Linked DNA regions of Homo sapiens: regions 1, 2 and 3 are each linked to region 4. Evidence: fine-mapped expression QTL. A gene starts in region 4. Each other region holds a variant in brackets. All regions are shown on one strand. Distances are from middle to middle.

Region 1 (8,145 bases), 160 kb before region 4:
AAAGTCTAGCTCTGTCACCCAGACTGGAGTGCAGTGGTGCAATCTCAGCTCACTGCAACCTCCACCTCCCAGCTTCAAGCGATTCTCCTTCCTCAGCCTCACCAGTAGCTGAGATTACAGGTGCGTGCCACCACACCTGGCTAATTTTTTGTATTTTTAGTAGAGACAGGGTTTCACCATGTTGACCAGGCTGGTCTTGAACTCCTGTCCTCAGGTGATCTGCCCACCTCGGCCTCCCAAAGTGCCAGGATTACAGGCACAAGCCACCGCGCCTGGCCCTTATTTTTGTATTTTTAGTAGAGACAGGGTTTCACCATGTTGGCCAGGCTGGTCTTGAACTTCTGACCTCAGGTGATCCACCCACCTTGGCCTCCCAAAGCACTGGGATTACAGGCATGAGCCACCACGCCTGGCCAACTACTGATTTTTGTATGTTGATTTTGTATCCTGCAACTTTACTGAATTTATCAGTTCTAATAGTTTTTTGTAAAGTCTTTTGATTTTTCCAAATATAAGATCATTATCATCTGCAAACAAGGATAATTTGACTTTTTCCATTTTATCTAGGACTTCAATACAATGTTGAATAAAAGGGAACTCTATTTCAATGTCATAGAACTTGAGTTAACAAAATGATTACTTTCTAAAATGTTTTATTCCGCTTCCAATTATTGTCCCCAACATTATAAGTCATTATCCTAGCTCCCATGAAGCAATCCACCAAACAAGTAGGCAATTGCCACACTTGTAATGAATGACCTCTGAATCCTATTTCCTAATCATTTATTACATCCAAGAAACCATGAATTTGTGTAGTTTTTTCCCCTAAGGTAGTTTTCAAATGTGTCTTACTGCTTTCCCATCATCAAGCCAGTTGAGGTTATTGTAGGGAAAGAATTGTGCTTCAATGTAAAAAAGTATGTATTATTTAGATCATAAACTTCCAGGCATCTGATTCTTGTCCTTCATTGTGCTTGAGCTATTTACAACTCTGTATATTGTAGATAACTGATAGCAATGTACAATAATTATTGTCTATGAAGTGTAAATTCTCTCTGGTGAAGAGTCAACTGGCTTGCCTCCTTTCCCACCTGTCCCCATGAAGCCAGTCTTACCTTCATTAGCACATTTATTTAAATATTCTTGATTTATAATTTTTAAAAATTCCTCCTTGACTTCGTTGTAACACCTCACCTGTTTCCTCTTGAGTTAAACAAATATTTAACATGTTTATTTTTATATTAATATAAAAGTTATGATTTTATCTTTCATGAAAAATTTATTTTAACATATTAAAAAGTGATTTGCTGTCACTTCTAAACATTCAAGATCATCAGTAATATGGCCCCTTTGGCCATCCTACTGCTCATGTAAACTCTTTGATACTAAAACAGCCTATATCAGGCCAAGAAACATGAAAAAATCCTCGACATCACTAATTATCAGAGAAATGCAAATGAAAACCACTGTGTGATACCACCTTACTCCTGCAAGAATGGTCATAATCAAACAATAAAAAATAATAGATGTGGGCATCTATTATTTATTATTATTATTTTTTTGAGATGGAGTCTCGCTCTGTTGCCAGGCTGGAGTGCAGTGGCACTATCTCGGCTCACTGCAACCTCCGCTGAAAAGGGAACACTTTTATACTGTTGATGGGAGTGTAAACTAGTACAACCACTATGGAAAACAGTGTGGAGATTCCTTAAAGAACTAAAAGTAAATCTACCCTTGGATCCAGCAATCCCACTTTTGGGTATCTATCGAAGGAAAAGAAGTCACTGTATGAAAAAGATTCTTGCACGTGCATGTTTATAGAAACACAATTCATAATTGCAAAAATATGAAGCCAGCCCAAATGCCCATTAATCAATAAGTAGATAAAGAAAATGTGGTATATGTATACCATGGAATACTACTTAGCCATGAAAAGGAACAAAATCATGGCATTTGTAGCAATCTGGATGAAATTCTAAGTGAAAAAAAACAGGAAAGGAAAACCAAACGTTGTATGTTCTCACTCATAAGTGAGAGCTAAGCTGTGAGGATGCAAAGGCATAAAAATGATTTAATGGACTTTGGGGACTCAGGGGAAAGAGTGGGAGGGAGGTGAGGGATAAAAGACTACACATTGCGTACAGTGTACATTACTTCGGTGTTGGGTGTACCAAAATCTCAGAAGTCATCACTAAAGGACTTATTCATGTAACTAAACACCACCTGTTCCCCAAAAGCCTATTTAAATAAATAAATAAATAAATAAATAAATAAGCCTAAATCATCATTCTCTAAGTATACCATGGGAGTTTTTGTTTCTTTTTTCTGGCTCTTAGCTAACTCTTGATGTCTTGTCTAACTCTTGTCCCCAGCCAGACCTGGGGACAAGTGGGTACATCGACGATTGATTTCATAGTCAAAAAAGCATCTCATGTATATCTAAGTCTGACTGTACATAGTCAACAAGTTGTTCTTCATTCATAAGAGTCATATTTGTGGGGTGGGCGTGGTGGCTCACACCTGTAATCCCAGCACTTTGGGAGGCTGAGGTGGATGGATCACCTGAGTTCAGGAGTTCAATACCAGCCTGGCCAATATGGTGAAAGCTGTCTCTACTAAAAAAAAAAAAAAAAAAAAAAAAAAAAAAAATATATATATATATACAAAAATTAGGTGTGCTGGCAGGTGCCTGTAATCCTAGCTACTCAGGAGGCTGAGGCAGGAAAATTGCTTGAACCCAGGAGGCGGAGGTTGCAGCAAGCTGAGATCAAGCCATTGCACTCCAGCCTGGGCAACAAGAGCGAAACTCTGTCTCAAAAAAAAAAAAAAGTAGTATTTGGGTAGTATTTGGGAATCTGGTTTTATGATGTGATCATGTAGTGACCTCTCTCAGGATATAAAGGGGATCAGTTTCTGTTGGGTGAGAGAGAATAAAAAAACCGGTTTGTTAGCCCTCTTTTTATTTACTTGTCTGTTTGACTATTTGTGAGCTCAACTCAATCAGGAAAACATTATATGCTCACTAAAAGTAAAATGTCCCTTTGAGATCTGCACTAGTGATTTTTATGGTTCTGTGTTTACTGTTGACTCATGATTGAGGCTGTAGAACTGAAACTTCAAGTTCTCAGTCTCAGTAAGTCTATCTGTAATTGTGAAAAACCTTTACCTTTCATTGCGTGAGTTTGACATTTTTCCACCTCATGTATGTAAATAAATTAAATTATAAAGTCTCTGAAATTTAAATAGCTTCTCTCTAATTGGTTCATAGAGAAAAATAAGCACTTCTATAACTGGCATTCACAAATTTCTCAGGAAATAAATTGTTCTTTTAAAACTAGGCTTAAAAATTATTATGGAAATCTCAAGATCAGAAGCAGGTTTGTATGAAAACATGAGTTCATATTATAAAGGTGAATCTTTTGAGTCATATATTTTATGAGAAAAAAATAAAATAAAGGTGAATCTTTTACAGATTAGGCTTGTTTGGTAACTTTTGATTTGAAAACAGCTATATGACTCTTCCCTAATTTTACTGATGGGGTTGAACTGGTTTTCTATTGCCACATAACAATATTGCCACAAATTTCTCAACCTTACACCAAAAACATTGATAAACTTACAGTTTCTGTTGATCAATCAAAGCTCAGTCTGCTACAGCAAGGGAGAATACCACCTTGAGAGATCCTAGTAATATCTCAAAATGGGAACGTAAGAGGAGGATATTTATAAGGCTTAGGGATCTAGGCTTCAGTTGTTTAAGTCAGGTTTATCAAGACAAGAAACTAACTGAACTGGAGGACAGTTCATGACTTACAGTTTAGGATTAGGAGACCCAGAAAGGCCAACTTCTTGACATAAGCCTTGATAAGTAATTTTTCTTTTTCTTTTCTTTTCTTTTTCTTTTTTTTTTTTTTTTGAGACAAAGTCTTGCTCTTTTGCCCAGGCTGGAGTACAGTAGTATGATCTCGGCTCACTGCACCCTCCACCTCCTGGATTCAAGAAGTAATTTTCCTGCCTCAGCCTCCCAAGTAGCTGAGATTCCAGGCACCTGCCACCACACCTGGCTAATTTTTTTTTTTTTTTTTTGAGTTGGAGCTTTGTTCTTGTGGCCCAGGGTAGAGTGCAATGGTGAGATTTTAGCTCACTGCAACCTCTGCCTCCTGAGTTCAAGCAATTCTCCTGCCTCAGCCTCCTGAGCAGCTGGGATTACAGGCACCTGCCACCACGCCTGGCGAGTT[T/G]TTTTGTTTGTTTGCTTTGTTTTGTTGTTTTTTGTTTTTAGTAGAGACAGGGTTTCACCATGTTGGCCAGGCTGGTCTCAAACTCCTGACCTCAGATGATCCACCCACCTCGGCCTCCTAAAGTGCTGGATCAGGTGTGAGCCAACATGCCCAGCCTTATTTTTGTATTTGTAGTAGAGGCAGGCTTTTGCCACGTTGGCCAGGCTGGTATCGAACTCCTGACCTCAAGTGATCCGCCCACCTCAGCCTCCCAAAGTGCTGGGATTGCAGGCATTAGCCACCATGCCCGGCCCGTAAGTAATTTTTTTAATAAGCTGCCCATTTGGCCAGATAAGCAATCTATTATCCCGATAGAAGAACTGCTTGGCCAGATGAACAAACTATATAGACAAGTTGCTTTTCAGGAATTTCCTGAAGCAAGTAGTAAAGTTATATATTGGTTTATAGCTTTATATTTCTGGGCAAGAATTTCTTAAACAATAAGTAAGTCAAATTAACGTGGGGGAGTCTCTGTTCTAAGTCCCCACATTAAGCTATGTGAATACAAATGGTCTAAATTCTTAAATTAGAATACGGTAAGTTGTAGTTTGTCAACATAACTAAGATCCTTATTTAACTTTAAAACCTGAGTCTATTCTTAGATCAAGTTATTTAATAGATAACTTGGACACCTAGATAATTTTTAAGGGAAATAGAATACTAAAATTTGGTCACCCTACATATTTTGAATATATACACTTTTTTTCTTATAGTGGATATATCTGTTGTTCATGTTAATGACTGTGTTTACCTTACTAATGATTGGGTTTACTCTGATTTAAAGGAGTGAAAAATGGATGTGGGTGACTCTAGGAGGTGATTTCATTAGTTTTGTTAATTTGCTAAACTGTGTATAATAGATACTTCTACATCCCCTTCTAGTTTTCTCTGTGAAATAGAAATCAGCTACTTTGACTGAAAGTTAGAATTTATACAAATAATCAAAGACTATACTAAAGCAATAGTAGCAGAAAATTGTGACTATGAATGCGAGGTAATGGAAATATTTTCTGTCTTAAACTAAAAGGTTTGGTTCTTCTAGAATGCGAAAAAGAATTGTGTAAAACAAATCTTGAATAGATGTAGAAAGTTGTAAGTAGAAAACAATTTATTTGCCTCACTGCAAATAATGAGTTGAAAAAGAAACAATAAAATATACTCAAATGTTGGCAACGTTCCCTCAATTTTGATGAGTTTATTTGTAAGATTGTTTTGTTTTTTAAATAGGACAGGCCAGGAGACGGAGGCTGCAGCCAACCATAAGCATGCCACTGCACTCCAGCCTGGGTGACAAAACAAGACCCTGTCTCAAAAAAATACAACAGAAATAGGGCAGGTTGTTCAGTTAGGCAGCACGTACACTAACATTGGAATGATACAAGAAGGTTAGCATGGCCTCTGCACAAGGATGACACACAAAATCATGATGTGTTCCATTAAAAAAAAATAGAGCAAGGAGCTAATAAATCCTTTCCTGCTAACTACTATATTAATGTAAAACTAGAATTTGGTTTTCTATGTACTAAAATAACAGTGTATCTCAAACTGTTTGGTCTGCTCTTAACAAAGGGTAGTAAAAGTTTATGCCTTTACATTCTATCTGGCCTGACAACATAGCAGAAATTCCATATCCCATCAAAACAGTTTTCTGTGTTTTATGGTCATATTTTCAAGCCCTTGATTTTTAAGCAGCAAAAACTTAAAGTTCTTCATTTGCTGAAAAGCTAAGACTCCTTTCTTTTGTGTCATCATATTCTTGTTATTTAAAATATTGTATTGTCATTTTGATCAACAGATATTGAATTTATTGTTTCTCAGGCACATCTGACCCTATGTTAATAGGTGATCTAAAGTACTCCAATAACTCTTGGTTTTGCTTTCCCACAATCACATCCTAGCTTCGGAAAAATAAAAATTAGAGGATTTTCTTCACACATAAAACTATCTTTGAAATTTCCCATAAGACCCCTAGAAAATCATGAAGCTTTTTTCTTTTGTTTTACAAAAGTAGAGATGTACCAAATAATTGTTTCCTTGACTTTTTTTCTTAGTTCAACACTATTGTAAGAATTGATCAAAATAGTAGTCAAATTAAAGGATACATTTTATTTTTTAAAAATTGTTTTATTATACTTTATGTTCTGAGGTACATGTGCAGAACGTGCAGTTTTGTTACGTAGGTATACACGTGCCATGGTGGTTTGCTGCACCCATCAACACATCACCTACATTAGGTATTTCTCCTAATGTTACCCCTCCCCTAGCTCCCCACCCCGCCGATGGGCCCCAGTGTGTGATGTTCCCCTCCCTATGTCCATGTGTTCTCATTGTTCAACTTCCACTCATGAGTGAGAACATGCAGTGTTTGGTTTTCTGTTCTTGTGATAGTTTGCTGAGAATGATGGTTTCCAGCTTCATCCATGTGCCTGCAAAGGACATGGACTCATCTAAAGGATAAATTTTATAAACAAAATATTACTCACACATTTATTTCTGAGACTGTACACATTACAGAATAAATTGGAAGGCCCTGGATATTTGTCTGTGCTCTCACTGTTCATAGTATTGTTTTACTTATAAGAAAAACACTGATCAAATTCTTATTAAAAAATTATGTATTGCGGCTGGGTGCAGTGGTTCACGACTGTAATCCCAGCACTTTGGAAGGCTGAGGCGGCCGGATCACCAGAAGTCAGGAATTTGAGACCGGCCTGGCCAACATGGTGAAACCCCTTCCCTACTAAAAATACAAAATTAGCCAGGCGTGGTGGTGCATGTCTGTAATCCCAGCTACTCGGGAGGCTGAGGCAGTAGAATCACTTGAACCCGGGAGGTGGAGGTTGCAGTGAGCCGAGATCATGCCATTGCACTCCAGCCTGGGCAAAAAGAGTGAAACTCGGTCTCACAAAAACAAAAATAATAATTATGTATTGCACCTCAACAGAGAATTTTACTGTCTTCAATTTTGACCTCATCATACAAAGCCCAGCCTGGAGTCACATTTGAGAATAAATTGAGATGGGAGAGTTCTTCGGACCCCTTCTCAGGTGACATGGGTGTGGCTCATTTACTCAGCCACCACACAAACCCCACGCAGGAGTGGGAGCATGCAGGCAAGCGGGTGCCGGGGCCTGGGTGAGTGTTTTTGGGCTCCAGCCCCATGGTAGCATCTAGGGATGTGTTACAATTAATGCTCTTTTAGCAGTTGCCATCCATGGACAGCTAAGTGTTAACCAGCTCAGTGGAGAGTTGTGGCAACAGCTTTTTATAACCTGCTCTCTTGGTACCTGGGGTCCTTGTCCCGGCATCCAGGAAGACAGGTCACACAGACTTGAATGATGGTGAATGCAGAGGTTTTACTGATTGATGGAGGTGGCTCTCAGTGGGATAGGGAGCTGGAAAGGGGATGGAGTGGGAAGACAATCTTCCCTTGAGTTTGGCCACCCCCAGCCAAACTCCTCTCTGACCGTCCAGCTGCCTCTTTGATATTCAGATGCTTCTTTTCTTCTCTCCTTCTCTGCTGTGCTGCTCTGCTCCTTTGCCAGAGGAGTTTGGGGTTTTTATGGGTACACAGGATGGGGGCATGGCAGGCCAGGGTGGTTTGGAAAAAGCAATGTTCGGGCAGGAAAACAGCAATAACTATTCTTATTTAGGGTGGCAGTTTCCAGGTGGAGCCTTTGCCAGGGAACCACCATCTTCTACTCAGTATTTCCCTGCCTCCTGTCCGTATCAAAATGACATTTAATCAAATATGGAAAGCTCATCATTAAGGAGCAAGATGTGAAAACAATGACCACAAATTTCACTTCCCACTCCCACTCGAAAAAAAAAAATCAACCTGGTTTATGGTTAAAGCCTCACAAGTGAT
Region 2 (8,145 bases), 100 kb before region 4:
GCAAAGCAAATATTGACTTGTACCATCTTAATTTATTTTCTGGATTCCTTTTTTCAGGGTGCATTTGAGAAGATCTTTTCTCTTTGGCCATTGTCCAAGTGTTTTGAACTGAAAGGGAATGTATATGAATGGTGGTTCAGATGGAGGTTAGACCGTTATGTATGTATTTACTTTGTGATATTTTGTCATTTCAAATTATACTGTTGGAAAATGATTGGAAATTTTTGATCTATCTATACTTAGTTTCAGAATAAATAAAGATGTTGATTTAGTAAATCAAAGCAGTCCAGCAGTCCACTACCCCCTGCACTCTTTTCTTTACAGCAGTGAAAGGGTATGCATGTGTATATATATATCTGCTGGGAAATATTATTTTAAAATATTATCTATAACATGGCCTTTGTCTGACTTATAATTTTGATTTATAGGTGACTTGTTGTATATATGCTTCAGCCATTCAAAACAATATTTATTGAGTTTCAATATGTGCCCTAGATGTTGATGCCATGAAGTATACATTAGAGAAAGAAAGAAGACATCTCAGCAGGCTTCGAAGCTTTCAGAGTCTAGTTTAAAACCCAAGATTACTATTATAAGAGGCTACTAACTATGCAATATAGATTTAGTGGTAGAAGTGTGCAAAGAAGAAAGAGCAGTGTCTTGTATTAGTCTATGAACTTGATCTTGAAGAAAGGTTAAGGTTCAATTGGCCAGGAAAATGTAAATCTAGCACAGCATTTGGAAAACTGATAATAACTATTAATTATTTCATTCTTTCCTTTTTTCCTTTCCTTTTTGACTGATCTCTTTTTTCCAATAAATGTTTTCTTAGTGCCTATTCTTTGCCTTTCCTAGTTTCCAACCCCTATGCATTTTTCCAGTGTACTACATTGCATTTCAAAACCACATCTGAATAAAATCTTTGCTAAAGTCTTCACATCAAATAATTTTTAAATTCTCAACATTCTCATTAGAGCAGTGTATTATGATACGACTGTCCCAGTCTATTTAGGCTGCTGTAATAGAGTACCATAGATTGGGTGGTTTATAAACAACAAAAATTTATTTCTTACAGTTTTGGAAGCTGGGAAGTGTAAAATCACACCAGCAGATTTGGTCTGGTGAGGGCCCACTTGCTATTTCATAGACACTTGACTTCTCACTCTGTCCTCATGTGCTGCAAGGGTCAAGGGTGCTCTCTGGGGTCTTTTTTTTTAAAGGGCATGAATCCCATTCATGAAGGCTCTGACCTAATGACCAACCAAAGGCTTTACCTCCAAAACTGTCACACTGGGGATTAACATGATTCAACTTACGATTTTGAGTGGAAGGAAATGTTCAGTCTATTGCAATGATAGTTCACATTAAGTCCTTGTTTAAAAAGAGAAAGCTCATGTACTTTCCGGTCTACCATATTTTTTTCACTTTTATGAGCGTACACTTCTTTTCAGAATTATGACTTGGTGGTGTTATTCTTTGTTTTATTTGACTGAAAGGACTGATATAAAATGTGTTTCATCTTTGTTGGGTGCATTTAAATTTTATCATATGTCTGTAGGAGAGTTCCTTATTATTTTTAAATTGTCTTTATTACTTCACTTGCCACTGAGACTGCTCAGAATCAACCAGTGTTATCTCATATTGTTCCAAGAGATGCTTGCTTGTCTATTGCTGATGGTTTCTAACAATCATCGGCTTTATTTCATTTCTTGAAGTTTCACTCTTGAAGTCCTTCATAGACACTTCAAACTTTAAGCTTTTAACCTACCTACTTTTATTCATATATTCCTCACTAACCAAATATTTTTCCTGTTTTTTGAAAAGTAACTGTTTAAAACAAATTTTCTCTCTTTACTTTTCAGGTAGTTTTCCACGGAATGCTGTTTGCTTTTATTTATCTGGCTTTGCAGAAGCGTCAAATACTTTCTGAAGGAAAGGGTGAACCTCTTTTTTCAAACAAAATTTCAAATTTTCTGTTGTTTATTTCAGTAGTTTCTTTCTTGGTAAGTTTTGAAAACTTTCCAAAATTCTAAATGGTATGGAATATTAACATTAAGATATGGAAATATAATCAATTATTTTTAATAATAAATCTTTTTTTCTCCTTATTTTTCTTTTTAATATTTAGAAATTTTAATACTTCTCTCCCAGTAATTGATAGGATAGCTAGACAAATTTAGTAAAGTTGTAGAATATCTTAAGGACACGGTCAGTTTGACCTGATGTTAGAATAGTTAGGTAAGCAATAACAGCAGAATACACATTTATTTCAAATGCATGCAAAATGTTTGCCAAGATAAACTATATTTTTATCTATAAAAATAGTTTCAATAATTTTTTAAAATTGTTTGTTTTTAATTATGAATACATATTAGTTCATATTTATGGGGCACATGTGATATTTTGATACAAGCATACAATGCATAATGATCAAATCAAGGTAATGTTAAATGCTTGAGGCGATGTATATCTCCTTATTTTTCTAACTGGACTTAAATTCTAAAGAGACTATATATAAGTTAAAAATGAAGAATAAATAAGAGCTCAATTAAACGGGAATTTTAAAAGTTACAATAAATTTGGGATAAAATGTAATGTAAGGTGTTTCATATGGAGAGCCATCACTGCCTTTTGATCACTGTTTCCAGAAAAGCACAGACTTGTGCACCTCCCTCTGTGCTTTCTTATGTTTGGACAGTTGAACATACCAAAACAGGTGATGAGCAAACTTGCAAGCAGTTTTTACTGATAGTTTTTACATAGCATAATGAAGTATAATGTTATAAATAAAGAACTGTAAAAAAAAAACACTGTGAGGCTTATGCCTCTTCCAGACTTGCTTTTTTGAACTTTTCCATACATTTTTTGTTTTAGACCTATTCCATCTGGGCTAGCAGTTGTAAAAACAAAGCAGAGTGCAATGAACTCCATCCGTCTGTTTCTGTGGTACAGGTACTATCTTGATTTAGAGAAATTTCTACATCTTAATTCTTGATAAGAAAATGGTTTTTAGAGGCAGAGAGATTTGAGATTGAACTCCAGAAAATGTAGAGAAGTTACTTCATCTTTCTAAGCCCTTCCTTTCTCTGTAGTAATAGGGATATTAAAATCTCTTTCAAAGGGTTCTTGTATTTAATATATGGAAATGATGTAGCTCAGTATTTTTCACTTAATCTGCCCTTAGAAAATGGTGGCTCACGCCTGTAATCCCAGCACTTTGGGAGGCTAAGGCCAGTGGATCACCTGAGGTTAGGAGTTTGAGACCAGCCTGGACAACATGGTGAAACCCTGTCTCTACTAAAAATACAAAAATTAGCTGGGCGTGGTGGCGGGCACCTGTAATCCCAGCTACTTGGAAGGCTGAGGCAGGAGAATCACTTGAACCCAGAAGGCGGAGGTTGCAGTGACCTGAGATTGCATCATTGCACTCCAGCCTGGGCAATGAGCAAGACTCCGTCTCAAACAAACAAACAAAACCAAAAAGTTAATACTACATGCTAGATATTATGCCAAGGGCTGCAGTGGTTACCAAATCAGACATAGTTCCTACTCTTATGGAGCCTACATTCTTTTTAGCGTTGTACA[A/G]CTTATGCAATACTTTAATTATAATAACTCATTAAATGGTTTTATGTTTAAAGCCTTTGTTTAGGTCTCACATTCATGATTTTCACCACTCTGTATATCACTTATACTATTAATTATTTACAATGTTTCTTTAAATGACTCACAACCTGTGCTATAGTAAGTACCTTATGTATGTTTTCTCATTTAATGTTCACATGAACCTTTCAAAGTAAAGCTTATCTCTATTTGTTTAAATTAAAAAAAAGACCCACAAGATTAAGTGCCTTGCCACAAGTCCCAGGACTAACACAAGCAAAAGACTAGATTTAAACTTGAGTCTTTTTGATGCTATTGCCCATGAGAATCACTCAATTTAATTATACCTGAGTGGTTCACTTTGGTTCCTTTTTCCCATATTATCTCCTCCTCCTTCATCTTTTATGCATCCTAGAGACTTCTTAGATCCTTTGACAAAATGCCCAGGTTGATCAACATTGAATATGAGTTTTTCCCTGAAGTGTGAACAGATTTGTCAATCCTTTTGTAAGAGAAAGTTTCTGGAAAGTAGTTGTGAAAGTGGAGATAACTTTTTTTCTTTACAGTTTCTTGCTTTTTATAAGGAGGGTACATTCTAAGGCAAGGATTCTTTGCTTGGTAAGCTGGTTATTGGATGTGAGACAATGATTAACACAGCACATGTATACATATGTAACAAACCTGCACGTTGTGCACATGTACCCTAGAACTTAAATAAATAAATAAATAAATAAATAAATAAAAAGAAAATGCAAGATTGTTCCACCGAAAATGAAAGATTGTTCCACCTGGTACAAAAGGACAGGGGAGAGGAGTAAAGGCCAGGATCCCAAAAGCTGGAGATTCTTTCGGGAGAGAAAAGATCCAGAGAGGAAAATATATTACATGTGAATATAGTTCAAGACATCATTCGCCAGGCCATGCAGAGCAAACATGAAGACATGTTAAAAGCCATGCCATTTCCCGTACTATCATGGCTGTCAGCGGAAGGAGGATTTTGAAGGGAGTCAAGAGAGGGAATGACTGTCAACCAAGCAGATACTTTATGAGAGCAGCAAAATTATATGATTTTGTGAAGTGTTGCTACATAAATATGATAGCAACTTTTTCTACACAAAGGGCCTTAGGCAAATCTGTAATTTTTCCAGTATACATAAAATTGTTCAGCCATGTACTACTTAAAATGTTCATTGGTATGCAGCATACCGACCATGTGTTGAGAAATCCAGTTTGGGTAGACTTTAGAACAAAAATAACTTTCTAATACTTTTAGAATATAAAAAGACTGTTGTATATGTGTCAAGTTCACAAACATAAAGAATAAGGTTATCATTTAAAAGAAAGCTTTATACAAAATACTTTTCAATAAAGAGATTATTAATATTTGCTTTTGTGCTTTTTCTTTAGATTTTAGCCTTCATCCTAATAAGAAACATCCCTGGATATGCCCGTTCAGTTTACAGTTCATTTTTTGCTTGGTTTGGAAAAATTTCATTAGAGGTTGGTACATTAATATTTTGCTTATCTTACACAGCCAGGTGTTTCATGTTTGTGTATGTACGTGTGTGTGTGTAAATATCACACATATATGTGAGTATGAAAATCGGACGTACTTTTTTCTAAACTGAAGCTATTATGGAATTACAGGGAAAAGACTTAGAACTTTCAACAATACTAAAGTATTTTGGAATGTTTTTAAGCCTTATTTTTAAATGACTAGATATAGATTACTTGCAAAATATTATTTACGTTGTCTTGAGCTTTCAAGCACAACCAAGATGCTGAGACCAAGAGAGAAAAATATTAGACCAGGTATATAAATGAAATCAAACTGAGGGGATTTTGATTTTTTGTTCATCTCCATAATTAAATATATTACTGGAATTCAGTTTATTGATGCATACCATAATAAAATTTACCCTTATTATGATTGGAAATTGTGGGAGAAAGTATAAACTCATTACATTTTGTGTAAGATACATAATATGAAATTATCTACAAAATCAGTTTGAACAGTAGGTTTTAAAATGTATTCTGAGTAGTCTAAGCTTTATTATTTGAAATAGAATGTTTTAAAACAATTTATATTGTAATAACAACATATATTTTAGAGTTTTTAGAGTATAGGATTTATTAAATTGTCTCTTAAAATAGGGAAAATAAATTCCTCTTTGAGTTCTTGAATAATTGTTCTATTATTTTCTTTGGTCTCATTTATAAGAGAGATTGTATTAGCAGTTGGAGTTCTAAGGAGTAGACTGCAGTGGACTTTTCAGGGCCAGTAGTGAGACAGAATAAAATGGTTTTAGGAAAGCCTTCTAATGTTATTATGCAACCAAATTGTTTAAATTAGGGAAAACTGTAATTTATTCATGGACCCTCTATAAATATCTGACTTAAATATTTTTTCTCCTAGCTATTTATTTGCCAGTATCACATATGGCTGGCAGCGGACACAAGGGGTATCTTGGTACTGATACCTGGAAACCCTATGCTCAACATCATTGTCAGCACTTTCATATTTGTTTGTGTGGCACATGAAATTTCTCAGATCACTAATGATCTTGCACAGATTATTATTCCTAAAGATAACTCATCTCTCTTGAAAAGGTTGGCATGTATAGCTGCATTTTTTTGTGGACTCCTCATCTTATCATCCATTCAAGATAAATCAAAACATTAGGTTCCAAAAATTCTAAAAAACCTAAACTCTTCAGGCTACCTTTGTGTGTCTCTAGAAGAGAAAAGCATCTATCTGGAGATATAAATGTGTATGTAAATATAAACGTTTGTGGCAAGAGGACAGTTCTGTGACATCTGTTGAACATATGTGGTTGTATATATTGGAAATGTACATATCCAATATGAAATACTAAAACAAACAAACAAACAAAAAACCAGAATGCATTGTATAGGATTGCATGTGAAGTCTTTTCTACTGAATCTATATTTCCATTTGTAAGTGATTTTAAGTTAACATATGAAGGCAGGGAAATGATTACCTTTCCAGTAAAAAGTATAGATAATTTAATTAACTTAGTGACACCACCAAGTGTTTTGATATAACTAAATTTGTGGTAATAAGACTGTCTGCACCTGTATTCATTGTGGAACTTCCTCTTTCATTGGAAACTTTCTTACTCAAGAATGACGGCAGTATTGTTTTCTTATATGTGCAATGAAGTGGAATGATAAACAGTATGCCTTTAATTTATATGTGTTCTTGTTCTGATGTTGTTTCCTGAAATGATTTTTCTTCCTAACTGTGGTTTTCGGGTATGCAAGCCTAAATCTTTGTACACTTTGTCTCACAGAATAGTTCTGAGGCTCCATGACAGGGTTTTGTCATTGTTGATGTTATTGTTGCTTCGTTTTATAAAAAAGCCAAAATTTTTTTTCCAATCCAAACGTTCACCTGTTTCCTTTCCTCAAGCTATACCAGTGTAATACCAGTTACCCTGTGGATCCATTTAATATGTTATCCCCACTAATTAATTTTCGTATATTATTTCCAATATTTGGAAAGCTCTTTATAGCCATTTGGTATTTCCTATTACCCACCTCCTATTTTAAATATTTATCAGTCTAAACTTGTGCAGTGTAGTAAACATGCAAGTTGTTACGATTGAGCTGTATTACCATAAGTAGAATTTTAAGTAAACTGGTGAATTTGGGCAATAAATGTTTTTGCTTTTTGTTTGATTTTTTTTTACAAGCTAACTGTTAGAGGTATACATTTATTTATCTGTTGTACAGATTTGATTATGATTTTAATGTTTGAAAGATTGCACTTGTTTGCTTTTACTATATGTGGGGTAAAATATATTTTCTGTTCACAGTATATGAAAATATGGAGTAATTTAAACAGTAAATAAACATTCTGTGGATGCTTATTTTTGTATTGGCAAAGTATCAATTAAACTATATGTGTTCTTTTTCAAAAATGCTGGATCCATTCATGATTGGTTCAAATATCTAATTATTTCCTCAACTTAAATTTGCTTTTTAAATTGCTTAATATGTAGGGGTAGGTTACCAAATGATAGTTGGATAAGGAATCATTTAGTTATCAGAGCTTCAGAGGGTCATCTGCTTTCCACCAAGGAAGTTTAAGCATTATGGTTCATTAGTGATTTTGCTTGAAGATTTTAAAAATGTACTTATTATTTATTTAGCACTGGATTTATGTGCTACTGATATACCTCCATTAATAGAGGAATATTTCTTGGACAGAGATGTGTGTTCTTTCCTTTTCTCTCTTCTTTTGCCCTTACTTAATCTTTTGACATTTCCCAGATAGACAATTGTAATGATTCATTGCTCTGCCTCCTAGACTGCAGCCTTATAAGTAGAGAATAGTATAGTTATAAATCAAAAACTTCCAAGTACTGTGATCACATTATTCTTGTTCATGTAGCTTGCCAATGAGTAGAGTGCATTTTAATTTAGCTTGTAAGTTTTATCACCTGAAAAAGATTCTTCTTGATGAAACAATTGAAAAAGAAAGATGACCAGTCTCCCTGTGTATTTTGGAAGCACTTATGT
Region 3 (5,000 bases), 23 kb before region 4:
ACAATCTACCATGGCCCTCCTGGGTTTGAAGATGACAAGCACATTTCTTTATTCATGTGTACTCAATTGCCTTTCAGCAATCTGCTGAACTGCATACTTGCTGGTCAGTTACCTTGGCAACTCCACAGTAAAGGCTGCTTCACTTTAAGTATAGTATGCCATTCACTTTGAGAAAAACATGATACAGATGTATGACACATTCATCATCTAGAAATGGAAAATGACTAAGCCACTATGTTTTGTTTGTAAAAATAATACTTCCTTTCTGTAGCATCAGTTTAAATTACAGGCACCCACACAACATTTTAGAGGAGTGCCCTTTGCCTTTCCCTTTCGCATTTGTTACTTGCAAAACAAATAGCTCTGCAACGGAGGCAATTTAGGCAGTATTTACACCTATGCTTCCTTTCAAAAACAACAAATGACACAGAGAATTCGAAGCTATAGGTTCTTGTTCTAAACGTGAGCTATATAAATAAAGCTGATGGGGTCCACTCCAACACCTACAGAGGCTATTACTAACAGTTAACACATGTTGCAGTCACATATGCCCAGGCAGCACTCACAAACCATAAGCTTAAAGCATGTTGTTTTCCTTAAGAGCAAGTCTTGAAAATCAAATTTAAACACTCTAAGAATCCACAACACTAAGATCTAATAATCTCTGAAATATACATGTGTACAGTGCCATGCTAATCAAGCCAAGGTAACAGGGTCTGGCCTCTCTGTGTATCGCATGGTTTTGCAATCTTCTACGGCTGCAAATCCATTACCTCTGCAAACATACGCCACTAGATATAAATGAAACTGGAAAACTATGGGTGGTTAAATCCATGCAATTCTATCACTATTAATGGGAAAAACAATGAGACCAAAAGTCCAACCCGCAAGAGGTCAAAAATATCATCTCCAAATAGCAAGCATAGCTAGATTTACAAAGATTAAAAACTTCTGAAGACAGGTAGTCATAAGGAACAGAATTTTTTAAGTAATAATTACATATCTGAGTAGAGAGAGCCAAAGGGTTATGTAAGCAAGTAGCTGGGATCATTATCTCGCTCTCCCTAAACATAGATCCAATTTATCTCATCACCATGTTACCAAAACCTTGTTCACAAAACTGTTATCTGTATGTTTCATTCACAGGGTATAGAATCTGCAGCCATTTCAACAACTCTATATTATGTGACAGCATAGAGCCCAGAATCAAATAACAGACCACGAAAGCAGTAGCAAAAAAAAAGGGAGCTCATGCTAGCTAAACAATGTCTTGTTTTCCTTTACTAATAGTCCAGTGGAAACTCTCTCTCCATAATGAAAATATATGGGTGTGCACGTGTGCTTATTACAATTACCTTCAAAGCAAGTTTGAATGTATTTAGTAAACATTAAATTTTGAAAGTACTATGGTGGTACGCTGCCAATGAATCCACAGCATATAACTTCACAATTCTCACAATGATTATTCTTAATGGCATGTGCATAAGCACAGGCACACACACAGCCCCTTCACTACAAAAATGTCCAGAGAACACTTGCCAGTTCTTTTTCTGCATCACCAAGAACAATTACATGGCTATAAAGATAAAATAACAACTGAGTATAAGACCCTGCAAGTTTGAGCTAGTTTTAAATCTTAAAGCCATCTGTCTTCTGAAATCTTTGAGAAGAAAGTCATAAAGTATTGTCAATATTTATGTCCGGGTGACTTTGATTAGGTACCCAGTATGTTTAGGTCTCTCTTATAGATGCTTTATTAATAAACTAATCACTTTAAAATGTCCATTTATATCATCATTTTCTAATTTTTAAGGTTTACAAGGATCTAATAAAATCTCAGTTTACCAGAACCACATGAAATGAATTGTTCCACAGAGCTGATGTTTCTGAAGTACTCTGCAGTTGATTCTTTTTCATGATGGTATAAGATCATCATTTTGTACATCAATTGTTGCACTCTGCTCTATTATACGGTGATACCCGTATGGACTGTTTGGTTGCCTTGTCATTTACCGATCACACTGTGGGTCCCAGTCTGCTAATGCTTTTTAAGGTTGTGTGTTTTACAGATTTTGTTTTCTCTTTTGTAGACAAGTTGTCAGCTGTCATTTCTCATTGCTATCAGTATGTTTCCCATAGCAGCTTCTCTATCCCCTCTAATTTGCTGTTATTAATCGGCTGCAGGTTTAGAAACCAGACTACCAAATGAGGCAGGGTTGCACATTGAAGTAAAAACAAATGCGTGCTGTTTAACACACATAGGGCTCTGCTAGATGTAAAAGACAGGAGCCTGCATTCGCAGCATCTATTTTGGCTGCCGAAAGACTCTTTTGTGGCGTATTTCCT[A/G]GTTCTTAGTTGACGCAGTACACTTCTGAATAGATGATCTTACTATACTTGAGAGAGAGCCATTACTTAAGGTGATGGCAGCAGAAACTCTGTTATAAAATACATTCACAAATAAATAGGTGTACAATTGAAAGTCTTAATTCAACCCATATATTACATAACTGTGAACTGTCAAATAAAAAATGGATTGAATGCATTGTATAAAACACTTACATATTCGATATGTGGGAAATACACTGCACAATTTAAACGAAGAGATCTATGGATTAAATGATATGTTGCCCTTAGTTATAGCTAAATCAGCCTAAGATACTATAACACAATATAATTAATAAGTAACTTATTAATAAGCAATTAAAGTCTATTTCTAAAAGCATTTCAATTTTATCAATTTGTTTCTCACATGAAGAGTTTGAAGATGGAAGCTGTTCATTGGGAAGCATCGCAAAGGTGTTTTAACTAAGTTCAAATTATTTAAATATGATAGTATATATTTCACAGCTAGGAAATTAGTTGTTCAAGTAATTTGAACTTAGTTTAAGTATTGCCTTAACAGTAAGTATTATCTAAAAAAATGTTTTGGATAAGAATGATTAAGAAGGTTTTAAGGTATGTTGAGGATACAAAGAGAGTACTAAACAGCCACCTATCTGCTGTATCTTTTAAAATAAATTGTTGCCTAAGCAACTAGGTATCATCATCCCTGATAATTAAAAATGTTAAGTACTGACAAAAAATAATACTTCTCGTCTCATATTTTATAGTTTTAACATCTAAAAACTCTTTATGAGATTCAGAGTCCCTGTATACATAGGAATTGAACAAGAGGCAAATCTCACTTGCTGTCTCTGCATCAAAAGAACTCATTTCAAAGTTTGCATAGCCTGATACATTTATGGATTCCTTTCTAATTTATTTTTTTAACATGTTGTTACTACAGTCAAATTGAAATTTAATTATTAAGCCAGGTAATTGCTGTAGAGAAATATTTTAAGAGAGATCAATATCCAGCCAGTTAGACAACCTGTTTTTGTTTTTGTTTTTCTCACTAAGATTTACCTTGTGTTTTATCAATACAACTTTATGAATCTTGGCTTTGAATCAAAAGCTTTTCTCAGCAGTCTGCCCTTCACCTTTAATTCACTCAACATCAAAGTACTGCAGGCCATTCATCTGGCATTGGCCAGCTATTGTTTTTTTTTCAGTCACAGATAGTCCATGCCTTGGCTGTGGAATCCATCACTAAGAAGGCATTACAGTGTCTTTGTAAACTTCATTTCTCTAGGAGATATGGCCACTTTTCTTTACATGAAGTAGGAGAGGAAACCATTACTTGAATCTTCTACAAAAAAGCAGAAGAGTTTCTTCATGATATTTTCCCCAACTAAAACCACTTACTTTCAGTTTTTCCAAAGTGGAACTAAACATCTTGATTATTGTGTGATTTCATGTGTGTGTTTTTTAAATGTCAATCGGAAAAAGGTTGCAAACCATTGCTAATTGGTGATCAATAAGCTTAGTGTCATAGCATGCTACATTGAAAAGAGCTTTATATGTCATCCTGTCTGGGCATGCCAAATATATTTCTTTATTAAGAGACAGATCATAACATTATTTCCTACCTGCATATGGCCTCTGCCTCCTACTTAACCCAGGATTCCTGACAGTTACTAACAATCAGAGTTTGCATGCATTTGCTCTCTTGGAGAGTTCAGTCCATTTTATAGATAACAAAATTGAACGTAGAGGGACTAAGTGACTGCTTCAAGCCTATAGGACCCATAACTAGAAAATAGAAAAAAGGAAGAGTGGGTGTGTCAAAGAAGCTGATGGCCCTCAGCTTGCTCAAGTAGGTCCCCTACTCCCATTCCAGGGAAAAAAAGAAGAGATTCCATAGTCCATATCTGGAGTATTCCTTATTGCTTTTGTAACCACTTACTGGGTGCTGAGGTAGAATGTCAAAAGTTAAGGCATTCAAATTCCTTAGAATCCTATTTACAGAAGAAGTACCATCCTACCGCTTTAGCTAAGAATTGGAATATTCTTTGCTGGGCCTGGCAGCTCACGCCTATAATCCCAGCACATTGGGAGGGCAAGGCGGGCAGATCACCTGAGGTCAGGAGTTCAAGACCAGCCTGGCCAACATGGTGAAACCCCATCTCTACTAAAAATACAAAAAATTAGCAGGGCGTGGTGGTGGGTGCCTATAATCCCAGCTACTCAGGAGGCAGGAGAATCACTTGAACCCGGGAGGAGGAAGTTGCAGTGAGCTGAGATCACACCATTGCACTCCAGCCTAGGCAACAAGAGCGAAACTCCATCTCAAAAAAAAAAAAAAAGCTACACAAAACATATATTTGTCAAATTTATTTTATATATAAATGATCCTATCATCTTTTGTGCTCTCTTGAAATTTTCTAAAAGAGATGACTGGGATTCATGGTCAAGAACATCTCAAAGAACATTCTATATCTGAGACAGCATTTAAAATGGCCTTGCCATACAAGTTACTAGTATTTGTTATTATAATTTTAAAAGTGATGAAACAATTCTCCTCATACAGTTGACAAAACTTACTCCCTGTATAAGGTATCTTGATAATTCAGAACTATAATGATAGGATATAAATAGGATGAGAAGAAAGAAAAATAATC
Region 4 (7,851 bases):
ATTTTCATATGTAGAGGAATAAAAAACTACAATATGTTAGAATAGTGAGATGGGAGAAAATTCTTCTCAGTTTTCTGGTTTTAAATATTTATGTACTAAGGTTGTTCATTTAAAATTTTAATTAAAAAATTAATATTATTTCCTTTAAAGAAAGCTCTCCAAACTTAATGTTATTTAACATTTAAAGGCTCTTTGGAAAGAAAATAATCGAGGAGAATTAATTTGATCTTGTTTTTAACTTTTAGAAAGTATTTAACTGCAATCCTATGAAAAATATTTATTGTATAGCTACCTATATATGCATAGAGAACGTCTGAAAAAGCAGACTCTATAATGTTTACTGGTGTTATTGCAGGGTGAATAGGTTACAGGTGACCTTTTCTTTAGAGTTTTCTAGGGTTTTCTCTCCTGAATTTTGTACAATGACCTGAAATTACTTTTATTATGGTAAAATACTAATTACGTTTTTTAAAAAAAGTCCTGGTTAGCATTTTGAAATGAAAAAATCAAATTGGTTCAAACTTGTTCAAACTTTTAAAGTCTTAAGATGGATTTTTGAACTTTAATTTTTCCTGCTTTTCATCTATACTGGTTTTAAATCTCAATTTTTAGAAAAATAATGTCTCAGTTAACTAGGTGAAGTAACTTTCGAATTTAAACAAACAAACAAAACTGGTAAGAATTTGACAGCGGTCACCAGAACAGTACTCTACCAAGCATAAGAAATCCTGGAATTATTCTATCTTGCAGAAGAGGGTGAACATCCTAAAGATTAAATTAAAAGGCACTTCTAAAAAGTATAATTGTGTTTACCCAACTTCCTAGGGAAATGTCTTTGTTAAAAAGCTGCATTTCATTCATTCATATTCCGGATAGTGGGCATTTTCTAATAAAAAGTAAAATCTCAGTAAATGGGCTACAGTTTTGTTTATTCCTAGAAAGGCTCTCTTTTAAAGTGCGGTGTCTGCAACGTTGTTATGACAATAAGTCAAATTCTTATTGATATTCCAAGTATAAAATAATCCGTAGCAATGTTACTAAAATGTGCTCAATTTTGCTCTTCAAATATGAAAGCGTTTCATCTGTGTTTCAGAAACCTAACTCAGCTGTAGACAATTTGGTTTTCCCTTTTAACTTAAACTTGTTTTACTAAGATCATCAACAGATTGTCAGTTTCCCAAGCACCTGACACTGAGGCGCTTAGATGGGAATCCGCGTTAAGGTTTTATTTAGCATCCTTCCTCATCAGAATTTTAGCGTCTTATCAGCCACTGCAATTTTCCCTGACATAAAATATATATGTTCATAGTACAAATGCACGCAAATATTTGTGGCCGAATCTCGGCAACCCGCTGGAAAGGATTAAACGTGCGGTTGCCGTGACTAAACGCATTCATTCACCCTACAAGATTTAGGAAAATGTAACGTTGCAAGGGAAGCAAGGTCTCTGTGTAAACCTCGTAATCGCCACCAAAAGTCGGTAGCTGGGAGCCTTCAAAGCCCGCCAAACACACTGGAAGCATCCACAGCTGTTTTAAATTGGTTTTGGTTTCTGGAAATAGCGCACTCGGTACGGCAGCATCTCTGGCCTCCAGCCGGGGTTAACCCTGACCTGAACGCCCTGTTTAGCTCCCAGCATTTCATGATTCCGCTTCCCTGCTCCGTAAAACCGAAGAAAACCGAGATTTCCGTCACCGAGAAATGCACTTAGCAAGAGGGGGAAATTCGGTGTTTTAAATGTCACATTTTTGTGTTCTCTACCACTATCAAGAAAAGGAAAAAAGATGTGTTTGTGTAGCGGGGACGCAGCTTGACACCCATTTCCTTTGGCTCGCATCGCGGTCGCAGAGCCCAATCGCGGGGAAACGGGCCCCCCAGAAAAACAGGCAACGACCCCCAGCTCTTTGCTACAGGGATCGGGAGAGGACTACCCTGGGGCTGGGCGGGGAGGGGGATGTTGGGAACAGGAATTGGAGATGGAATTTCTGCGCCCGCAGAGCAGGGAGGGGCCCGCGGGGGCGCGGAGAGGAAAAAAAGGCCAGGGGTCAAGCCTGGGGAGAGAGAAGCTGGGCCGGGGAAATGGGGTACAGGGTGTACTGAAGGAGGGGTACGGTGGGGTCCGGGACAGAAAGAGAGGCTGGTGCCCAAAGGGCGCGCTCAGGCGCCCGGAACCCGAGCGGGGGAGGGGGAGGCGGCGGCCTGTTGGCCCCGGGACCTCCACGTCGCGCGCAGGCCACTAACCTGTCAGCAAGAATGTGCCAGTGGTCGCGGGGCTCATCCTGCGTGTCCCCCGACCCTGTCCCGTCCAAGCACAGGGGTCTCCCAGCTCCCACCACCGGGGCAATTGCATTCTTGGCCTGGCTAGGCCGTCCGTCCTCGATTCTCCCCTCCCCTCCCTTTCTTCTTCCCTCCCAGCTTGGCCAGTTCAGCATCAGCATCCCGCACCCCCTCGGTAATCCCGTACTCCCTCTAGCGGCGGGCCACTGCAGCGTGGCCACCGCCCCCACCCCCATCCCCCATCCCCGCACCCCCCTCCACCCCCTAGCCCGCGGAGCACGCTGGGATTTGGCGCCCCCCTCCTCGGTGCAACCTATATAAGGCTCACAGTCTGCGCTCCTGGTACACGCGCTTCAACTTCGGTTGGTGTGTGTCGAAGAAACCTGACTGCGCCCTGAGGAGAACAGCGGAGAAGGTCCACCGAGCCTGGCGAAAGGTCCGCTGAGCGGGCTGTCGTCCGGAGCCACTCCGGGCTGCGGAGCACCCAGTGGAGACCGCGCCTGGCTCAGGTGTGGGACCCCATCCTTCCTGTCTTCGCAGAGGAGTCCTCGCGTGGTGAGTATGCGGTGAGGACGTTTTTTTTTTAAAGATCACGTTCATTCCCCGTGCTTATCGGGAGCTGCGGGAGATGGAGTAGCACCCCAGAATGTCTCCACGCAAAACTTGTCACGCCTTCACTGGCTGTACCCCAAAACAAATGGGGAAACCAAGCCTTAAAGGCTTGGGTTTCCAGGACCAAGTCCAGATACGGGCTGTAGACAGAGATGAGCTGCGGACAGTGATGAGCTGCAGACGGTCAGGAGCTATAGATCGATTTGCAATTTGCTCTTCAAATGCGCTACCAAGTGCCATGCTTTACAAACAGATAAGCGCTTCAAATGCGCTACAAACTGGCGCTTCAGATGCGCTACAAGCACGCTTCACGCGGGCGACAAACTGATGGGAGCTACAACTGGCGCTTCATTGCGCTATAAACTGATGGGCGCTTTATGTGCCACAAACTGACGGATGGGCGCTTCAGTGGCGCTACAATCCAGAACGAGGAGCAGCGATATAGGAGCTGCAGACAGAAAACTGAATTGCGCTTTACATGCGCTGCAAAATCTGAGCTGCAGAAGAGTAGCACTACAAAAAACGCTACAAAAACGATGCGATTAGCCAGCCCGACAACAGCGCTTCATTGCGCTGCGAGGCACATGAACTGCAGAGGTACATGAGCTGCGGAACAATTCACACCTAAGATGCACTACAAAGTGGTAAGAGCTGCAGAGGTACAGGAGCTGCAGACCGTTTGCGCTACAAATAAAGCAGCCGTAGTGGGACATGAGCTGCGGAGTACAATTCCTCTGTTTTCTTGGAGCAGGACCCCACCCTTTCACCTTTTGGAATGGCTCCCACTCTATTTTTCTGCAGGACGGTTCTCGCATGATGGTGCTGGTAGACAAAATGGAGCCCCGGGCAAAAATTAGTGTTTAACATTCTGCCCACACCATTCCCGCTATAGCAGTGGAGTGGAGGGGCACTGATTGGAGTGGAAATGGGAATCTTTTGGTGATGGCAGAGCAGGCTGCCTGCCTACTTGTGCTTGATTGAAGTGGCGGTGTAGTTGTGGTGGCGCGAATCAGCGTCCAGCAACAGTTTGTGGAAACTGTGGGTTTGCTGAGTATGGCGGGGGAATTGGATCTGTGGATTGCTCTTGCTGCATGAAATGAATCTGGCTTTGGTGACTGGTGGGAGGGGTTTGGGAGGGGGGATTCTGGCGGCGGGGGGGGGGGGTGTGCAGATACTCTGCAGCCCTGTAGCAGCCAGTCTCAGGCCTGCCCCGCCCATCCTAGTGTGCCTTCTCTGCGGTGCTTAGCGCCTCCTCCTACAGCGCCTCCTCAGAGCGCGCCTCCCCTGCAGCGCGCCTTCCCAGAGCGCGCCTTCTAGATGCGGCCTCCTCAGGCCCCTCCTCCCAGCTCCTTAGCGCCTGCCTGCCCAGGCCCCACCTCTCTCTGGCCACCTCATTCTGAGGTGAGCTGCTCAGGCCCCGCCTCTTCCAGGCCCGCCTTTTCTGTGGTGAGCTGCCCAGGCCCTGCCTCTCCCGGGCCCACCTACTCTGAGGTGAACTGTCCAGGCCCCGCCTCTCCCGGGGCCGCCCCCTCTGAGGTGAACTGCCCAGGCCCCACCTCTCCTGGGCCCGCCTCCTCTGAGGTGAACTGCCCAGGCCCCGCCTCTCCTGGGCCCGCCTCCTCTGAGGTGAACTGCCCAGACCCCACCTCTCCTGGGCCCGCCTCCTCTGAGGTGAACTGCCCAGGCCCCGCCTCTCCTGGGCCCGCCTCCTCTGAGGTGAACTGCCCAGGCCCCGCCTCTCCTGGGCCCGCCTCCTCTGATGTGAGCTCACCCAGATCCCACCTCCCCAGGCCCGCCTCCTCTTAGGTAGCCTGCTCAGGCCCCGCCTCTCCAAGGCTTGGCCCCTCCCTAAGCCTGCCTCTGCCGGGCTGGCCTATAGTCCCACCTCCCTCAGAGCCGGCTAGCACACATGCGCAGTGTGAACCCTCAGCCCCTCCCTTCAGGCGCCGGTCCTCTGCACCTGCGCACCTTCCTTGCCTGAGCCCTGGCTGTACAGCCCCGCCCCCCTGCGGTTTCTCTGCTGTGTTGGTTTTGCTTTTTGGCTACTAGAGTCTAATAGAATAATAAATAAAACAATTAACAATAATAATTATAACTGGAATTTATGAGCACTTTTAATATGTTCTTTGCATATATTCAATAACATAATCCCACAATTTAAACTCCTGATAGTGGCTTATGAAGGGACCTTGTAAACTGACATGGCTGGTGCCTCTAAAGGCAATTTAGCCAAATGTTTTTACTGCAAATGAAAACCAAAACTTAACAATTTATTTTTAAAAACTTTAAAAATATTTTCACATTTAAGGTTTTTTTAGAGGCACTAGTGGACCTTTGGGAATCGGATGTTTTGGTGGATACAAAATTGGTGCTGTTGGTTTGGCCTCTGAGTGAGGATAAGGCTTTTATTTGCGTGCCTATGAAGCTGGGTGTTTTCCTTGAATCTCTAGGTGATTAACCCTAGCCTATTTGCCTATGTATAATAAATTGTGCCTGCACATGGTAGGCATTCATTAAATATGTGTTAAATGACCAGAGTAAATTGGTTTATTCAGTGTCTTGCTTGGTGTCTGTAGGTCTCTTCTGATTTGCTCCTTTCCTATGGTGCTTTGCTGTCCTGGGTTGCCTTGTTTGCGTTATCTCTCACATTTAACAGAATAAAAAAAAAGTGTATGTGTTTTTAAACTCCAATGATATAAGCTGTAATTATAATACAAAGCAACTAAATTAATTTTAATTATTCCAAATAATTAGCTTTTTTCATAAAAAGCTAGTTATTCCAAATATTAGCTTTTTTCATGAAAAGCTAGTTATTCCAAATAATTAGCTTTTTTCATAAAAAGCTAGTTATTCCAAATAATTAGCTTTTTTCATAAAAAGCTAGTTATTCCAAATAATTAGCTTTTTTCATAAAAAGCTAGTTATTCCAAATAATTAGCTTTTTTCATAAAAAGCTAGTTATTCCAAATAATTAGCTTTTTTCATAAAAAGCTAGTTATTCCAAATAATTAGCTTTTTTCATAAAAAGCTAATTTAAATTTGGGGCAAGTGTATTATTAATGGTACATATTGTATTAAAGTTTGTGTAATGTAATATAAAGTGGCCACATTACAAAATATAGGTTGTTTCAGCTTGCAAAATTAAACAACTGTATAAAACAAATTTATAACTGATTGCTAGTAAGAGGTACCATGTAAGAATTGTGTTTCCAGCTGAATGAAGAAATTTTAAAACCTGGTTCCATATATTACAAATCATGAGCCAGGACTTTGGTAGGGGAGGAATTGGGGGCTTTGGCTCCCAAAAATCTCTGTCACATACCCCCTCCCCACCACAAGTACACAATCTATGGAAAATTTGTGCTTATCATAATTACAGCTTTAAGTAATTTTCCCTTCTCTTTGGATATTGTATATTTGCATATTGAAGAGGTTCAAAACAACAGTAATAACATGCATATTAAGAGAATTTGCATTTCATAAATAGTACAAGATAGTACTAAAAAATTGGACATTTGAAAATATGAAGCAACTAAGAGTTGCTTAATGAGATGTCATTTCCTAACAGGATGTTCATTTATGGTTTTTGGCTACTATTGCTCTTTGGTGTGTTTGTGGAATAGAAATTATTCCAAGCTATTGTGAAGAGTCAATAATTAACCAAATGTATTTATTTCCTAAAAAGACTAAAACTGAAATTATTATCATGTAAAGATGGCATCTGTCCTAGGCAACTTGGCTTTATGCAGTTTGTCCTTTCAGTTTTCAGGAATGAGACCTCTTGACCCCTCCCCTCCAATGCAGCCCCTACTAAGGGGGAGTTTAAGGAGCCATACATAGTTCTATAATTCAAATCAAGTAAACATGCTTCTTGTCCCAGGTTAACTTGTGCTGCCTCAGTCGCTGTTTAAACATTTTTATACGCACTGTTAACCTGCCTGCCCATTACCCTATTACTTTTAATGGATAAACTACTGTTCCCTGGGCAGTTGTCTCTTTTAACGTCCCACCCTAAACTTGCCAACCCTCATATGAAGGCCTCAGGCTTGTTATTGGCAAAGGTCAGAAGTCTTAAGCTAGTGACCTTGCAGGCTAAAGTAGGCCTTGAATTTGTTTGACCAGGAACTAAATTAAAAAATAAAAAAGAATGAAATGTCTGGTGGCAGGGGGGCAGGGGTGGGGAGGGTGGTAAGGGGGAGGGCATGCACCCCCAAGTTCCATTGTTGCAGCCCCTCCCATCTTAACTCTGGTCTCTTTTCACTTTTCAACTACCTTCCTTATATACCAAAGGTATTTGAATTTTTAACTCTTATTGATCTTTTATTTCCCTAAACCATGTAGTAATTATTTGCTGATTTCCTAATGTATTGTTATTTCTGTCCCATCACTGTTTTTTGCAGATAATAAAACCATCAGACCTGGGCTTCAATAAAGCCCCACTTAGTGGCCGTGATTGACAAGTGGTCAGGCTGCACCAGGCCATGCTGTGAATGCTCTTTAGGAAGTCTTGTCTCAAGGTTTTGAAGATATTAATGTCTAGATGACAAAAGTGGTACCTTAGTCACCTTACTTATGGTTATTAGTTGTTCATTAATGGGACATGAAAACTCCTAATTTAATAAGGAAAAATTGCATTATGTTGTGATGTTATATTGTCAGGGTCAGCAATACAATTGTCTTTAAGGAGTTGGAAATGATACTGAATGTCACGGGTTATGATGTGTTTATTGTGTTTTCTAATTTTTTCTAAACTTGAATATTTTATCTTGAATGTCAATTATTTGTTGTTTTTATAGCCTAAGTTACTAAAGTAATTAAGTAGTGGGGTTAAAACTGTTAAAATGTCACACTACTCCCTGTCTCTTAAAGACCCTGCTTGCTGTATAGCCACTCCTTGGAGAGGCTACACCAACTGCAAAGGACACAGGGATAGTATCTGTGGGTGGTGACATTGGGGCATGG

Which allele goes with the higher level. Positions count from the first base shown, and alleles are read on the strand shown. Sizes are in standard deviations (SD) of each study's normalised expression. Not every link is listed here.
As copies of A replace G in region 3, the expression in tibial nerve of the gene that starts at base 2,577 in region 4 goes up (small effect, 0.17 SD a copy in GTEx).

Evidence for each region. PIP is the estimated chance that this variant, and not a neighbour inherited with it, causes the effect. A credible set is the group of variants that fine-mapping cannot tell apart.
Region 1: its variant is the best candidate, but not a certain one, in a credible set for the expression of PEG10 in blood mononuclear cells (TOPMed, PIP 0.68).
Region 2: its variant is the best candidate, but not a certain one, in a credible set for the expression of PEG10 in whole blood (INTERVAL, PIP 0.70).
Region 3: its variant is the best candidate, but not a certain one, in a credible set for the expression of PEG10 in tibial nerve (GTEx, PIP 0.61).

Annotation. Positions count from the first base shown.
Region 1 is chr7:94,489,685-94,497,829 of GRCh38, forward strand. It overlaps the pseudogene RNU6-1328P. Among named protein-coding and RNA genes, the nearest start is that of CASD1, 16 kb to the right of the region's middle. The variant T/G (reference allele first, on the strand shown) is at 4,239.
Region 2 is chr7:94,549,476-94,557,620 of GRCh38, forward strand. It overlaps CASD1 (CAS1 domain sialic acid O acetyltransferase 1), which reads left to right. Exons shown (of 18, transcript NM_022900.5): 14 at 58-159; 15 at 1,863-2,003; 16 at 2,875-2,952; 17 at 5,008-5,100; 18 at 6,017-7,544. The coding sequence ends at 6,283. The region is part of intron 1 of LOC105375404 (a long non-coding RNA gene); the gene reads right to left. Among named protein-coding and RNA genes, the nearest start is that of CASD1, 44 kb to the left of the region's middle. RefSeq lists an enhancer at 6,635-6,684. The variant A/G (reference allele first, on the strand shown) is at 3,586.
Region 3 is chr7:94,632,390-94,637,389 of GRCh38, forward strand. The region is part of intron 1 of SGCE (sarcoglycan epsilon); the gene reads right to left. It also overlaps a transcript of CASD1 not described here. Among named protein-coding and RNA genes, the nearest start is that of SGCE, 21 kb to the right of the region's middle. The variant A/G (reference allele first, on the strand shown) is at 2,347.
Region 4 is chr7:94,653,749-94,661,599 of GRCh38, forward strand. PEG10 (paternally expressed 10) reads left to right here and starts at 2,577. Exons shown (of 2, transcript NM_001172437.2): 1 at 2,577-2,843. The coding sequence starts at 2,839. SGCE (sarcoglycan epsilon) reads right to left here and starts at 2,385. Exons shown (of 11, transcript NM_003919.3): 1 at 2,242-2,385. The coding sequence starts at 2,350. RefSeq lists enhancers at 1,733-2,510, 3,780-3,829, 4,609-4,903 and a silencer at 4,300-4,539.